Regions from separate parts of the Homo sapiens genome. Here region 1 is linked to region 2. A link means that fine-mapping ties the variant in region 2 to the expression of a gene that starts in the linked region. Tissue or cell type: cerebellar hemisphere. Region 2 holds a variant in brackets; the other region holds the start of a gene. All regions are shown on one strand. Distances are from middle to middle.

Region 1 (8,105 bases), 750 kb after region 2:
AGATGATATTGGCTAGGTTTCTATGCTATAGAGCTAACTAGTAAGTAATTTGTATTTCTAAACTACTAATAAGCACTAAATATTTTGGGGGAGATACTTTGAGATTGTATCCATTTCCTCATCAAATTTTCACCTACTAGCTTTTCCATCCAATGATGATTCTATCTAAATTAGTTATAACTATAATGGTTGCAAAATAATAATTTTCTGGCTGGGTGTGGTGGCTCATGCCTATTATCCCAGCACTTTGGGAGGCTGAGGTGGATTGTTTGAGCCCAGGAGTTGAGACCAGCCTGGGCAACATGATGAAACCTCATTTCTACAAAAAATACAAAAATAGCCGTGTGGTGGCACACGCCTGAAGTCCCAGCTACTTGGGAGGCTGAGGTGGGAGAATTGCTTGAGCCCAGCAGGTTGAGGCTGCAGTGAACTGTGACTGCACCACTGCACTCCAACCTGGGTGACAGAGCAAGACCCTGTCTCAAAATAATAACAATTTTCTAATTCCATAATTATATTTACATTGATTAGTTGGCATTTACTATAAGTTAGAGCTCTCTCTTCTCTCTCATATTTATTCATTCATGTATTATATAAGTATGGATTCATGAGATTTGATTTTTCAATGAATTATAATCAGTTACTATCATTTTTTATTTTGATCCACAAAATGACCTAGATGTGGACAACTGGAGCCCCATGAAGTTGGCTCCTGTGTTTATTTATTTATTTATTTATTTTGAGAGGAAGTCTCACTCTATTGCCCAGGCTGGAGCACAATGGTGTGATCTCGGCTCACTGCAAGCTCCACCTCCTGGGTTCACGCTATTGTCCTGTCTCAGCCTCCCGAGTAGCTGGGACTACAGGCGCCCGCCACCACACCTGGCTAATTTTTTTGTATTGTCAGTAGAGATGGGACTTCACCGTGTTACCCAGGATGGTCTGGATCTCCTGACCTTGTGATCCACCCGCCTTGGCCTCCCAAAGTGCTGGGATTACAGGCGTGAGCCACTCCTGTGTCCTTTAGACATGTCCTCATAATTATCTGAGGGCTTCCTTACTTTCAGTACAATAGAGTTCCAGGGTCATCTTGTTCTTTCCCTGCCCCAGCCCTGGTTCCTTTTAGTGGAAAAAGGTATTTAGAAACTGAGATCTAAATGCTAGGATGCTCATTGCAACTGGGGTGTCATTGCTCCTGGACTAGGAAATATAACACATTCATACATTTCTACTTCTCAATTTACCTGTCTATCCCTACCTATCTATCATCTGTCACATTCCTATCTTTAAAATCCATAACTTCGGACTAATGCCTTCAATTCCAATCCAGTATCACATTTTCCCCTTTGCATATTTGTAACTCCTTTCTTCAACAGTGAGAAATTGCATTCCCAGTCTCCTTGATACGTTGACTCATTCACTTGATCCTCCTGCATGTAAGCAATCTCCCAGCTGGGCCAGCCTTGTCCCCTTAGCCCCAGTGCCACCCATCACACCATTTGAGTGTTCCAACTCCAAAAGAAGGGAAGGCGAAATAGGAAATTATTTTTGCTCTTCTCTTCCCTATTCCTTATGTGTATATTATTATTTTCCCTTTTGGATATTGCTCACATCCATTTTCTCCTCTTCAGCTTTACTTCTGTGACTAGAATTCAGGCTTGAACAGGTGCTTCTGGTTTTGTTCCTGGTAATCTGTCCTGCACATAGCAGCCCAGATGATCTTTCACAACAAGAATATGACTATGTTATTTCTCTTTAAAGTCTCCAATGGCTCGTCATTTTCTACAAGGTTAAGTAAGCTCTCTAACTTACCCTGACCTGGCCTCTGTCCATACCTCCATTCTCATATTCATGCCTTCCTCCCTTGGACTATCAGTAGAAGTGAATTTTTGTAGTTGTCTGCATATACCATGTTCCATCACTACCATTTCAGTATGATGCTCCCTTGATTTATGAACCTCTTTCCCCAGTGCACCCTTAGAAATCCTGCTCAGGTGTCACTGTATCTAAGAAGCTTTTTTTGACACTTCTTTCCAACCATTAGTTGTTAATTATCCATACTAATTGGATTTCTTATACATAGTTTTATTATTGCCTATGTCACTCTCCACTATATTTGTTTACATGTCTGTCTTCTCTACTAGGTAACCAATTCAGAGGACAGGAATTGATTTTTGCCATTATAGTTTCAGTATCTAGCACAGTTTCTGCCATGTGTTATACACTTAATAAATACTTATTGAGGCTGGGCGCGGTGGCTCACGCCTGTAATCCCAGCACTTTGGGAGGCCGAGGTGGGTGGATCATGAGGTCAGGAGTTCGAGACCAGCCTGACGAACAATGGTGAAACCCTGTCTCTACTAAGAAAAATACAAAAATTAGCTGGGCATGGTGGCACTCACCTGTAATCCCAGCTGCTCAGGAGGCTGAAGCAGGAGAATCGCTTGAACCCGGGAGGCGGAGGTGCAGTGAGCCCAGGTGGAGTGATGATCGCGCCTCATCACTCCAGCCTGGGCGACAGAGCAAGACTCTGTCTGAAACAAAACAAAACAAAACACAACAAAAACTTATTGAACTGAAACATATATGTATGTGTCTGTGTGTATTTCTTTTTCTTTTCTTTTTGCCTTGGAAGAATGTGGAGAAACATCTGAAAAAGGAGCTGTTTTAAGATACCCAGTTTGTGATCATTTATTATGGCAGCCAAAGCAAATAAATACAGCATCAAGCTTATCAGAATCCACTTGCATCATGCTTGCTAATATCCCCATTGTCAAAGCTAGTCACAAGGCTAAGCCTGCTGTCACCATGAGAGGGGACTATACAAGGGCGTGCATTCTGAGAGGTGTGGTTCATTGGAGAAATCAAAGTAACAGTGTGCAGTGAGATTTATTAGATCATTTCATGTATCATAATAAAAGACATTGAATTTCTGATGAAGGATTTCGAATGTGGTAAAATAATTCAGTGGGAACCCAACGCAGTACCTTGAAAGAGAGTTACCTTGGGTCAAGTACAATAATTGGCACTCAGACCTGACACTTCCTTTTCAATAGACTAAATTCACCATGCAGCAATTATTGGAGCTAACAAAGTGTAATCTGTATTGGAAGAGAGTTATTGAAACCAGTATTTAAAAACATTATAGCAGAACTCTTCAAATAAATTCTTATATTAACACAGAAACAAGTATGGCAGAATACTCACGGTTATTTTATTTAAAGTTGGGTTTTTCGAGTACCCTCTATTTTCATGTATTTTGGGAAATTTTAGTAATGAAAGCAAATAGTGAAACAGAATTAAATATCCATTTTATAAAATACGACAAACAAGAGGAGAGCGGCTCTGAATTCCACCCCTGTGGAATTCAGGACTGCCATAGAGCGTATTTTCAAAACTGTTGATTTTGACAAGGCTGACTAGGAGATGCCCTAGAAGCCCCAGGTATGTGTTTCAGTATGATTCTGGCAACGCTGACTTAAAGCACTAAGTAGAATCAGTAGCCTACAGTGGATACTGCCCCATAAGGAGTGACGGGGGAAACGTTGCTGATTAAATAAATGGTCTTTTGAATTGGGCTGATGGTAGATGCTATAACTGAAGTTGCAAACCACACTGGGTTCGTTTGCTAGGGCTGCTGTAATAAATGACCACAAGCTGGGTATCTTAAAACAGCAGAAAGTTACTCTCTCACAGTTCCGGAGGCCAGAGGTCTGAGATCCGGGTGCTGGTGTGTCCGGAATCGGTGGGTTCTTGGTCTCACCGACTTCAAGAATGAAGCCGCGGACCCTCGCGTGAGTGTTACAGTTCTTAAAGGCGGCGTGTCCGGAGTTTGTTCCTTCTGATGTTCAGATGTGTTTGGAGTTTCTTCCTTCTGGTGGGTTCGTGGTCTCGCTGGCTTCAGGAGTGAAGCTGCAGACCTTCGCGGTGAGTGTTACAGCTCATAAAGGCAGTGTGAACCCAAAGAGTGAGCAGTAGCAAGAGTTATTGCAAAGAGCGAAAGGACAAAGCCTCCACAGTGTGGAAGGGGACCCGAGCGCGTTGCCACTGCTGGCTCGGGCAGCCTGCTTATATTCTCTTATCTGGCCCAACCCACATCCTGCTGATTGGTAGAGCCAATGGTCTGTTTTGACAGGGCGCTGATTGGTGCGTTTACAATCCCTGAGCTAGACACAAAGGTTCTCCACGTCCCCACCAAACTAGCTAGATACCGAGTGTCCACACAAAGGTTCTCCAAGTCCCCACCAGAGTAGCAAGATACAGAGTGTCCATTGGTGCATTCACAAACCCTGAGCTAGACACAGGGTGCTGATTGGTGTGTTTACAAACCTTGAGCTAGATACAGAGTGCCCATTGGTGTATTTACAATCCCTGAGCTACACATAAAGGTTCTCCACGTCCCCACCAGACTCAGGAGCCCAGCTGGCTTCACCCAGTGGATCCCCCACCGGGGCTGCAGGTGGAGCTGCCTGCCAGTGCGGTGCCGTGTGCCTGCACTCCTCAGCCCTTGGGTGGTCGATGGGACTGGGCTCCGCGGAGCAGGGGGTGGCGCTTGTCGGGGAGACTCCGGCTGCACAGGAGCCCACGGAGGTGGGGGAGGCTCAGGCATGGCGGGCTGCAGGTCCCGAGCCCTGCCCCGCGGGAAGGCAGCTAAAGCCTGGCGAGAAATTGAGCACAGCAGCTGCTGGCCCAGGTGATAAGCCCTTCACTGCTCGGGCTGGTGGGGCCGGCCTGCCGCTCCGAGTGCTGGGTCCGCCGAGCCCACGCCCACCCGGAACTCGCGCTGGCCCGGAAGCACCGCGCGCAGCCCCTGTTCCCGCCCGCGCCTCTCCCTCCACACCTCCCTGCAAGCTGAGGGAGCCGGCTCCGGCCTTGGCCAGCCCAGCAAGGGGCTCCCACAGTGCAGCGGTGGGCTAAAGGGCTCCTCAAGTGCCGCCAAAGTGGGAGCCCAGGCAGAGGAGGCGCCGAGAGCGAGCAGGGCTGTGAGGACTGCCAGCACGCTGTCACCTCTCACTGGCAGGGTTAGGTTTTTCTGGGGGCTGTGAGAGAGAAACCAGTCTGTGCGTCTCTTTGGCATTCCTGGGCATCCCTCCAGGCTCCGCCTGTGCTGTCACACTGAGTTCCCCCTGTGTGTCTGCTTTCTCCTCTTATAAGTGATATAGGAGTTAAGAAGAAATTATTTAGGCAGATAGTGAGGGTAAGGAAGTCCTCAGTAAGGTTTTCCTTTTAATGAAAAGCAGCCCTCAAATCGTTTTCTTTTCTTACAATGAGCAGCCTGTAAAATCAAGCTGCAGACATAGACAAGCAAGCTAGAAGCTTGCACGGGTGAATGCCAGCAGCTGTGCCAATAGGAAAAGGCCACCTGGGACTAGGCATGTCCAACTTCGTATACTTGGTCATCATTTCCTACATTCTCACACAGAAGAGAGCACTCAAAAAATAGTTTTGAGAATCATTTGCTAATGATTTAATACTATTATAAGGGAATAAAAGACTTTTCTTTTAAATGAGTGCTTAAAGGCGATTGGAAGCCCTGCTAAAGTTCAGGGGTGAATGCCTTATTATTTTTTTATATTTGGGGGCAAGGGCTTTCCAGTGAAGACTGGAAAACCTGCTAGACAGATTCTAAAAGAGCTGTAACACTGGGTGAATGCTGTAGAAGCACATAGTGTTAGTAAGGTGTGGGTCAGATACGGCTTTAGAGAATGTAGCAACTGAAAGCCCAGATGGGAAGCTCCGTAGGCAGCTGGATAAGCTAATATTTCTAAATAATATGTTCAGAGATTCGGACTGAATGCAATTGCAACCTTCTCCACCAGTCAGCAGTGAGTTCTGAAGTTACAGAAGTGTGATGAATTGCGGTCAATATGGGTTCTACCTTCACTTTGGAGTCAGTCAGTGACCTTAAAATACCTGCCCAGCTGAATTTTCTTAGAGTGCTTCATTTCCTGTGGGCCCTTTTACTCCAAATTCCAGATGATGGCTTTTAGTCTGTGGGGCCGCTTTAAGAGGCAGAAATCTGATCAGAACTACTAGAAGGCTGTGAAGGTGCTGCTGTGTGGACAGGCAGGGCAGAGTGCTCAAGGCTTTCCAATGCTCCTGCAATGGATCCTCCCTACCCAGCCCACAACCTGGCAGCTCAGGGGCCAACTGTTCTCTGTTGCTTTCTACTATCATGAACACAGGAAATGGGGGTGGGTAGCTTCTGGTTTCTGATTGAGGGAGTAGAAAGTGATGCTGCAGGGATCAAAAGCAGAGAAGCTTTTAAGCCATTTGAGAAACTGTGTCCGAAGGCAAGCGGATTTTAGCAGTAGCAGCAGCAGACCCCAGAAAAATTTGAAGAAGCATTAGTTTGTGCACTGTTAATGCCACTCTCTCATGAATGAAGAGAAGAAGGCAGGCCTAATGAAGGCTTTCCTAATGAAGGCTGAAGGCAGGCCGCTATTTGCCAAAGGTGCTGAGTGGCAGGGGGAGGAAGGGAAGGAAGCTGTGCAGTGTGTACTGCTTGCTTATCAGGAATCACGTCATTTCCTGTGTAAAGGGGCTGTGTGGTCTCCAGGGGCACTGGGAAGCCTTGGATGGCATGATTTCACCTTCTTCTTGCTCATCATTGAGGAGCTCTCATTAGTTAATGCTAGCCCTATTCATTTCATCATACATCTATTGTGTTCATACTGTGTTCTGAGCTCCGTGTTTAATCTTCGCAGGCTCATGAAGAGGAGTTAAGGATACTTTTGTCTTGAAAATGCTAACAGTCCCTCATGTGCTTGGGACCAGGGCTGCTGGAAAACCCACTAAGCAGCACACGGGAAACTAGAAAAGCAGAGGAACAAAGTTTTGGGGTTTTTGGGAGAGGGGGTGAAGAATGACATATTTTATTCCAAAAGCATAAAATATTTAATAGTGGAAACTATGAATGATACTGTTTAATTTTTAGGAGGCCAAAATATTTTAAGATTTATAAGTTTTAAGCTGGCCTTGGAGTGAGGGCAGAAAATATGTACACAAACAACTCTAATACAAGACTGAATGTGATGTATACCATAACAGAGCACCAAAGTAATAATGAATTGGGAGACAGAAGAACCACAATGTCTTTATAAAGTGGTATTTGAAGTGGACTTTGATGAACAGATAGGCAGGGTTGGAGTGCATGATCACTAAATCCATTCAAACCTTCTAACATTGACTTTTTATGGTGTGGGGGTGGGTGGGATGGGCACGGATTCTCCATGCAAAGGGACTATCTCGGGAACAGACAGTCACGGGGGCGGGGGGACTAAGCTTTCCAGTGTGCCTGGAGAAAAAGGCACATGTGAGGTCATGGATCTCAGGGCCCAGGCTAGTCTAGTTTGGCTGTAGCAGGAAGTGTTCCTCACTCTGCTCAGACCCAGGTACTGCTTCAAACCAGAAAGTCTGGAGAGTGGGCTCCTTCCTCCCCTAATGGGGCAATTTGCCCAAGGACAAAGTCCAGGCTTGCTCCTCCGTATCAGACCCTGCTCTGGGTAGAGGGAAACCACCACATGCTTTCTTGTTTGATGTGCTGAGTGCTCAACTGAGCTGTCTGTGCCCCTACACTGCTTCTGTATACTTAGAGTCAACCTTTAGAGGATGATATTTCAACATTCTGCATGGAGTTTTCTCTGTAAAGTACAATGAGTTTGTGACTGACCAGAACTACAGACATTCCCTTTTGTTTGTGAGCTGCATGACCAATGTGTTTGGCCTCATTAAAAATGAACTGGGCAAGCTGGGCATGGTAGCAACTCAGGAGGCTGAGGTGGGAGTCTCACTGAGCTCAGGAGTTCGAGTCCAGCCTGGGCAACATAGCGAGACCCTGTCTCTAAAAAATATAATAATATAAAATTTTGAAATAAGAATGAACTGGTCAAATAGGAAAGTTTTCAAGGACATCAACTGGTCTTTTCTTGCACAGAGGAGATTCGCAGGATGAAAATACTCTGAGGCTTCTTCCCACTGCAGGGCACAGACCCGAGTTAAGTGTGGCCTGGCCCTCAGCACTTCCCAGGTGCCCTTGGTGCATCCTGGTGCTGACCTGTGCCCCTCCACACTCCTGCTGTGCAGCTCCTGCTACCCTACAGGAA
Region 2 (8,105 bases):
GATTTTTCAGCCTCCATATCACTTGAGCTAATTCCTCTAATAAATCCCCTCTCATCTGTCTGTCTGTCTGTCTGTCTGTCTGTCTATCTATCTATCTATCTATCTATCTATCTATCTATCTATCTATCTACCTATGCATCCATTGATCCTGTTGATTCTTTCTCTCTGGAGAAGCCTTACTAATACAGTCTCTTTTTTCATCTTCCCTGATATCATTCTCTTTTCTTCCTTCACCAGAAGAAACTACTATCACAATTTGAGTTTCTCTGATTTCATGTATTCTTTTTTTTTTCTGAGACAGAGTCTCGCTCTGTTGCCCACACTGGAGTGCAGTGGTGCAATCTCAGCTCACTGCAACTTCCACCTCCTGGGTTCCAGCGATTCTCTTGCCTCAGCCTCCTGAGTAGCTGGGGTTACAGGAACACACCACCATGCCCAGCTAATTTTTTTGTATTTTTAGTAGAGACAGGGTTTCGCCATGTTGGCCAGGCTGGTCTCGAACTCCTGACCTCAAGTCATCTGCCTGACTCGGCCTCCCAAAGTGCTGGGATTACAGGCGACTTCATATATTCTTTTACTCTTTTTTTTTTTTTTTTTTTTTGAGACAGAGTCTGGCTCTGTTGCCAGGCTGGAGTGCAGTGGCACAATCTCAGCTCACTGCAACCTCCGCCTGCCGGGTTCAAGTGATTCTCCTGCCTCAGCCTCCCGAGTAGCTGGGACTACAGGCACGTGCCACCATGCCCAGCTAATTTTTGTATTTTCAGTAGAGACAGGGTTTCACCATGTTGGCCAGGATGGTCTCCATCTCTTGACCTTGTGATCCACCCACCTCGGCCTTCCAAAGTGCTGGGATTACAGGTGTGAGCCACCGTGCCCGGCCTTACTCATGTTTTTATACTTCTATTACATAACATGTAGGTAGAAACAATATACAATTGCTTTTTCTGTGTGTTTTAAATATTTTTATTCAGTATGTCATACTACATGTATCCCTCTAAAACATGCATGTGCACGCGTGCACAAACACACACAAATGCTTATATATATCCAGTTCATTCATTTTAATGGCTGCACTACATTCTATCAATGAATACACCTCAATTTACGTAGCCCCGTATTGATGAACATTCAGTTTTTCCCCAATTTAGAGCTACTAAAAACGATGCTGCAAGACAATATTTGTGCTTGTCCTTTTGCACACGTGGAAGTTTCTATACGGTGTGAAATTTAGAGTAGAATTGTCAGAGGCGTGTGAACCAGAGCAACTCCATCTTAAATAGAAGCTGGGTAAAATGAGCTGAAACTTACTGGAATGCATTCCCAGAAGGTTAAGGCATTCTAAGTTACAGGATGAGATAGGAAGTCAGCACAAAATACAGGTCATAAAGACCTTGCTGATAAAACAGTTTGCAGTAAGGCCGGGCGCGGTGGCTCACTCCTGTAATCCGAGCACTTTGGAAGGCCGAGCACTTTGGAAGGCCGAGCACTTTGGGAGACCTCACCTGAGGTCGGGAGTTGGAGACCAGCCCGACCAACATGGAGAAACCCCGTTTCTACTAAAAATACAAAATTAGCCAGGAGTGGTGGCGCATGCCTGTAATCCCAGCTACTCCGGAGGCTGAGGCAGGAGAATCGCTTGAACCCGGAAGGCGGAGGTTGCGGTGAGCCGAGATCGCTCCATTGCACTCCAGCCTGGGCAACAAGAGCGAAACTCCGTCTCAAAACAAACAAACAAACAAACACAGCTTGCGGTAAAAGAGCCAGCCAAAACCCACCAAAACCAAAATGGCAACGAGAGTGACCTCTGCTCGTCCTCACTGCTACAGTCCCACCAGCGCCATGACAGTTTACAAATGCCATGGCAGCGTCAGGAAGTGACCCTAATGTAGTCTAAAAACGGGAGGCATGAATAATCCACCCCTTGTTTAGCATAACCTCAAAAATAACCATAAAAGCAGGCAACCAGCAGCCCTCTGGGCTGCTCTATGGAGTAGCCATTCTTTTATTTCTTTACTTTCTTGATAAACTTGCTTTCACTTTGCACTGCGAACTCGCCCTGAATTCTTTGTTGCGCGAGATCCAAGAACCCTCTCTTGGGGTCTAGATCGGGACCCCTTCCTTGTAACATATTTCTGGCAACCCAGATGGGACTATAGTGCAGAAACCCTGACCCAATGGCTACCTTTGGGGTAGTGTTGTGGTCCTGTAACAGAATTGTGGGTCACGTGGTATACTGGATGTTTTCCATTTGCTCCTCTGATCTTCTCTTTCTTCCTCCCTGCATTGGCCCCAGGAAGCTGACCTTTATGAACTGCTAGCCATGAATTTCCTTTCCCTCTGACTTCTTGTTGGATTTGGCCTCTGGAAGATGCCAGCAGGAAAGCAGAGGGTGGGAGGAGAGTGTGATCTGGGCATTTATTCTCCTGGCTCCCGTCCTGCTGGGCCTCTGTGGGTTGGCTGCATTCCTCCACCAAAGGCCTCCTGTCAAGGAGCTCTCCTACTGCCCCTGCTATTCTCCCTGTGTTCTGCAGTTCTGATCACCATTCCCTCTCTTTGCCTCTTCAGGCCTGGGGGCAGCAATGAAGTCCCCCAGGCTCCCCTGCTATTGCTACCCTTGTTGCTTTTTAAGGTTGCCATTAACCCTGCCCACATTTTGGTAAATAGTTCTTTTATTGAATTGTCCTCAATTACCCAGGGTGAGAGCTCATTCTGTTTCCTGCCAAGCATTGACTAGAACATATCGTATGTGTGTTTTCAACTTTACTAGACACTGATAAATCAAACTAACCTTCCAGTCTCAATCTCTTCCAGGAAACTTGCTGATGAAATCTTAGATATTTTCCAACGCTACTAAAATATGATTTTCACGCTTTTTCCCATCTGAAATCTCTGCTCTGGTCAGATTGGCCTAGTCACTGGTCCATGAGCATGGCTTTGCTGTTAGGTCTTCTTGAATAGAATAGTCTTCCTTCCATTTTTCCCATTTTTTCATACTGTGATCATCCAAGCCCCTCCACTTACCCTCACCCTCTCTCAGCTTCCTATGAAGGAATCTTACCTGCTTCATAAAATCATTCAAACTGCTGAGGGGACCGATGCTTAGCACTTACCGCCTCCCACCGCCCCCACTCCCTCGGCACTCTGCTTCTCTAAATTTCTTGTATGGTTGCTTTTCATTATTAATGAGTTTTTCTTATGTATATGTCAAATGTCTTCCATTACACTTTTCTTTAATGAAACTTTCGTGCTCGTTCTCTCTGTATATATTTTTAGTATTCCCAATATTACCAAAGTTACCTTTTTAGTATTCACCCATATTGCCTAACTGCTGTTTACAGACAGGTGCTCAATTAGTATTTTAAATGAAGCACTCAATCAATTTACTGCACTAACCTCAATAACCAAGACTTAGTAATAACATATAATCTGACAACCTGAAATCTTCTCTGCAGTTCTAAATAGATGAAACTTTCATTTTCATGTCACTTTAATTTATTATGTCACATGTATCCTGTTAAATGGCCTGTGTGTCTGAGTTCAGAGAAGTATACATTTTAGTAGTGAATGAACTAATGCCTATGAATTTACTGTAGGTATAAAACTTCCATTAAAATAAAAATATTCATATTCTCATTGGAAAACAATTATTAGCAATGAAAACAATGGTGATACCCAATCAGGTTAGTTAATAGGAATCAAGGGCCTTCTATTTTCCACTTACCCCAATGTGAAAATCTGAGGTTGCTTTTTGGACTTTGAAGAATCTGTTAGTATCTGCAGGCATCCTAATGGAAATTGACACAAAATAAATGCATCCATACTATTTTTAACTCCACAGGGGGAGAAAAGGCAAGGAGAAATTAAGTTTCTCTGCATGAAAATAGGAAGAGAAGTAGTTTTCAGGAGTTTGCCTAAGCAAAAAGAAAAAAAAAATTAGTCCCTCAACTTTCATAGCAACTCCCAAATGCAACAAAAATCACCACCACCACCAATCTCTATATAACGTATACTCAGGATACAAAATATCCTGGGTAATTTTCTCCCTTTTTTAACATTGGACTTTAAGTCTTTGGAGTGCAGTGGCGCAATCTTGGCTCACTGCAAGCTCCGCCTCCTGGGTTCACGTCACTCTCCTGGCTCAGCCTCCCGAGTAGCTGGGACTACAGGCGCCTGCCACCACGCCCGGCTAATTTTTTGTGCTTTTAGTAGAGACGGGGTTTCACCGTGTTAGCCAGGATGGTCTCGATCTCCTGACCTCGTGATCCGCCCGCCTCGGCCTCCCAAAGTGCTGGGATTACAGGCGTGAGCCACCGCGCCCGGCCTCTTTTTTTTTTTTTTTTAAATGAATCTGTGAGAAGCACCGCAATTGCATTTGTAAGAAGGTACTCAGAGTAGCAAGTAGATTCTAAAGGGGTGAGCCTGGAGCGGTGGCTCACTCCTTTAATCCCAACACTTTGGGGGGCCGAGGCGGGTGGATCACCTGAGGTCGGGAGTTTGAGACCAGCCTGGCCAACTTGGTGAAAACCCGTCTCTACTAAAAAAAATACAAAAATTAGCTGGGTGTGGTCGCGGGCTCCTGTAATCCCAGCTATTCAGGAGGCTGAGACAGGAGAATCGCTTGAATCCAGGAGGCACAGAGGTTGCAGTGAGCTGAGATCGCACGACTGCACTCCAGCCAGAGGCGACAGAGTGAGACTCTGTCTCAAAAAAAAAAAAAAAAGAAAAGAAAAGAAAAGAAAAGCGGCCGGGCAAAGTGGCTCACGCCTGTAATCCCAGCACTTTGGGAGGCCGAGGCGGGCAGATTACGAGGTCA[G/A]GAGATCCAGACCATCCTGGCTAACACGGTGAAACCCCATCTCTACTAAAAATACAAAAACAAAATTAGCCGGGCGCGGTGGTGGGCGCCTGTAGTCCCAGCTACTTGGGAGGCTGAGGCAGGAGAATGGCGTGAACCCGGGAGGCGGAGCTTGCAGTGAGCCGAGATCGCGCCACTGCACTCCAGCCTGGGCGACAGAGCGAGACTCCGTCTCAAAAAGAAAAAAAAAAGAAAAAGAAAAAGAAAAAAGAAAAGCACCAGCTCAAAGAAAAAAATAGGGGATTATCATTACACATAGCAAGAAGTCTGAAGACAGGTAATTCTGGAATTGGTTAATTAGTTGCAAAATGATGTTGATAACCCAGATGCTTCTCAACGTTCTGCTTTGGCATCCTCAATGTGTTGCGTTTTGTGCTCAGATGTAAGCCTTCATTCTAACAAAATGGCTGTCACAGCTTCAACCATTCACATCTTCAGGAAAACTGTACTCAAAGGCAAGAAGGGCAATCTCTTCTTGTGCTTCTTTTTTTTAAGACAGGGTCTCATTCTATCGCCCAGGTTGGAGTGCAGTGGCACTATCTCCACTCACTGCAACCTCAGCCTCCCAGGTTCTAGCCATCCTCCTGCCTCAGCCTCACGAGTAGCTGGGATTACAGGCGCGTGCCACCACACCCAACTAATTTTTGTATTTTCAATAGAGACGAGGTTTCGCCATGTTGGCCAGGCTGGCTCGAACTCTTGACCTCAAATGATCCACCTGCCTCGGCTTCCCAAAGTGCTGGGATTACAGGCATAAGCCACCGCGCCCAGCTTATAAATACTCTTTATGAATAACAGAGTGCTAGACAGGATAAAAGAAAGATTACAAGAGGTTAAAGAGAGAATGAATGGTGAGAAAATGAAAGTAGTCAATAAAAACAATTTTTATTTTTGTATTTTTTTTGAGACAGAGTCTTGCTCTGTCACCCAGGCTGGAGTGCAGTGGTGCGATCTCGGCTCACTGCAACATCTGCCTCCTGGGTTCAAGCGATTCTCCTGTCTCAGCCTCCAGAGTAGCTGGGATTACAGGCGCGCACCACCACGCCCGCCTGATTTTTGTATTTTTAGTAGAGACGGGGTTTTGCCACGTTGGCCAGGCTGGTCTCGAACTCCTGACCCCAGGTGATCCACCTGCCTCGGCCTCCTAGAGTGCTGGGATTACAGGCGTGAGCCACCACGCCCGGCCACAAACAATTTTTGAAGTTGTAAGAAAAAGCCAGAAGTAGAGTGAGGGTTAAGGTAGCTCTGATGAGGGAAGGTGTTATTTTGTCCTCCCCACCCATAGCACAGATCTGAAAATGTCCAAAGGAGAATGAGTCCCTGAAAGGAGATTGAGGGATGTTGTTAGCAAGGAAAGAGGCAAGCCTTGAATCAAGGACAGGCAAGTTATCCGTTGATGAGAGAGAGGTGGAGTGGGTTCTGGAGTGGTGGTCCTAGAAGCATTGTCTCCAGACCAGCAGCACCACCTAGGAACTTGTTAGACATGCAGATTCCCAGGCCACATCTCAAACCTACTGAATCAGATCTCTGAGGATGGGACTCAGCAATCTCTGTGTTAACAAGCCCTACAGGTGATTCTGACGTACACTAAAGTTTGACAATAAATGTGCCAGGGAATTGTTTATATTGTACCTAACTGTAATGTGTGCCTTTGCAATTTAAACTATTTTCTTGGGTCAGGAAATGTTTCCTGTTTTGTTCTTCCACCTGTGGGCTCAGGTAGACTCAGACACTGAGGCCCTTCTAGCCCTGAGGAGGGTGTACAGAACTCTAGACATACTAGGAGGCTTGAGTGTTGCCTCTTTGTTGCTATTCTTGCTGGGCTGGTTACCTACATTTCTTTTTTTCTTGCCCAGGCTCTTATTGAGTTCATAGACAAAGGGCCACCGATTTTTTTTTTGTCCTGTTAATGACTCTCCATTGCAAACACATGAAAGCCTGCACCCCTAAGCATGGAAAGCCAAGCCTTCTATGATCTCAACTCTGCTCACTTCTTGAGTCTTCTACCTTGCTGCCCTGAGGGGAACCTTTTCTCTCTGGCAAGAGATCTGTGGAAGGGAACTGAGAAAAATTCTTACAGAGTCCTAGCACCATTTGATCTGCTTGCATAGCTTTATTACTTGCCTACTACATGCCAGGAATTCTACAACAGACTGGGATGAAAAGATGCCTTACAAAGAAGCATAACATATTCTGGAAGAGACAGCCTGTTTTCATTCAGAATGCTATCACAGAATACCATAGAGCAAGTGGCTTAAAGAATAAACATTTTAAACAGCAAGCATGTATTTCTCACAGTTCTAGAGACTGGGAAGTCCAAGATTAGGTGGCTGACAGATCTGGTGTCTTGTGAGGGCACTCTTTCTAGTTTGTAGATGGCTATCTTCTCATTGTATCCTCATATGGGAGAGAAAAAAATATCACCTCTCTCGTGTCTCTTCTTATAAGGAAACTAATACCATTTGTTTTTTTTTGTTGTTGTTGTTGTTTGTTTTTGATTTTTTTTTTTTTTAGACAGTCTCGTTCTGTCACCAGGCTGGAGTGCAGTGGCACAATCTCGGCTCACTGTAACGTCTGCCTCCCGGATTCAAGCGATTCTCCTGCCTCAGCCTCTCGAGTAGCTGGGACTACAGGTGTGAGCCACTACACCCAGCTAATTTTCATATTTTTAGTAGAGACGAGGTTTCACCATGTTGGCCAGGATGGTCTCGATCTTTTGACCTCATGATCCGTCTGCCTTGGCCTCCCAAAGTGCTGGGGTTATAGGCATCAGCCACTGCACCCACAGTAGATATCCACAAATGGTATCTACTGATACCATTTGTAAGGGCTCCCCCTTATGACCTAATCACGTTATAAAGATGCCACCTCCTACTACCCTCACCTTCAGTGTTAGTATTTTAACATATAATTGTTGGGGGGCACAAACATTCAGTTCACAATACAGTCAAAGAAACAAATGCTTTGGTGATGGCTTCGGCAGCACATATACAAAAATTGGAATGATACAAGATTAGCATGCCCCCTGCTTAAGGATGACACACAAATTCGTGAAGCATTCCTTTTTTTTTTTTTCTGTTGCTCAGGCTGGAGTGCAGTGGCGTGATCTCGGCTCACTGCAACCTCCACCTCCTGGGTTCAAACAATTCTCCTGCTTCAGCCTTAGCTGGGATTACAGGCACATGCCACCATGCCTGGCTAATTTTAGTACAGAAGGGGTTTCACCATGTTGGTCAGGCTGGTCTCAAACTCC

The links. PIP is the estimated chance that this variant, and not a neighbour inherited with it, causes the effect.
Region 1: LINC01252 starts here. The variant in region 2 is fine-mapped to the expression of LINC01252 in cerebellar hemisphere (GTEx, PIP 0.96).

What each region holds. Positions count from the first base shown.
Region 1 is chr12:11,544,019-11,552,123 of GRCh38, reverse strand. It overlaps LINC01252 (long intergenic non-protein coding RNA 1252), which reads right to left and starts at 4,094. Exons shown (of 8, transcript NR_033890.1): 1 at 3,764-4,094; 2 at 2,403-2,534. The region is part of intron 2 of LOC124902877 (a long non-coding RNA gene); the gene reads left to right. It also overlaps the pseudogene RNU7-60P. RefSeq lists an enhancer at 7,559-7,618.
Region 2 is chr12:12,289,044-12,297,148 of GRCh38, reverse strand. It overlaps the pseudogene RNU6-318P. Among named protein-coding and RNA genes, the nearest start is that of LRP6, 26 kb to the right of the region's middle. The variant G/A (reference allele first, on the strand shown) is at 4,814.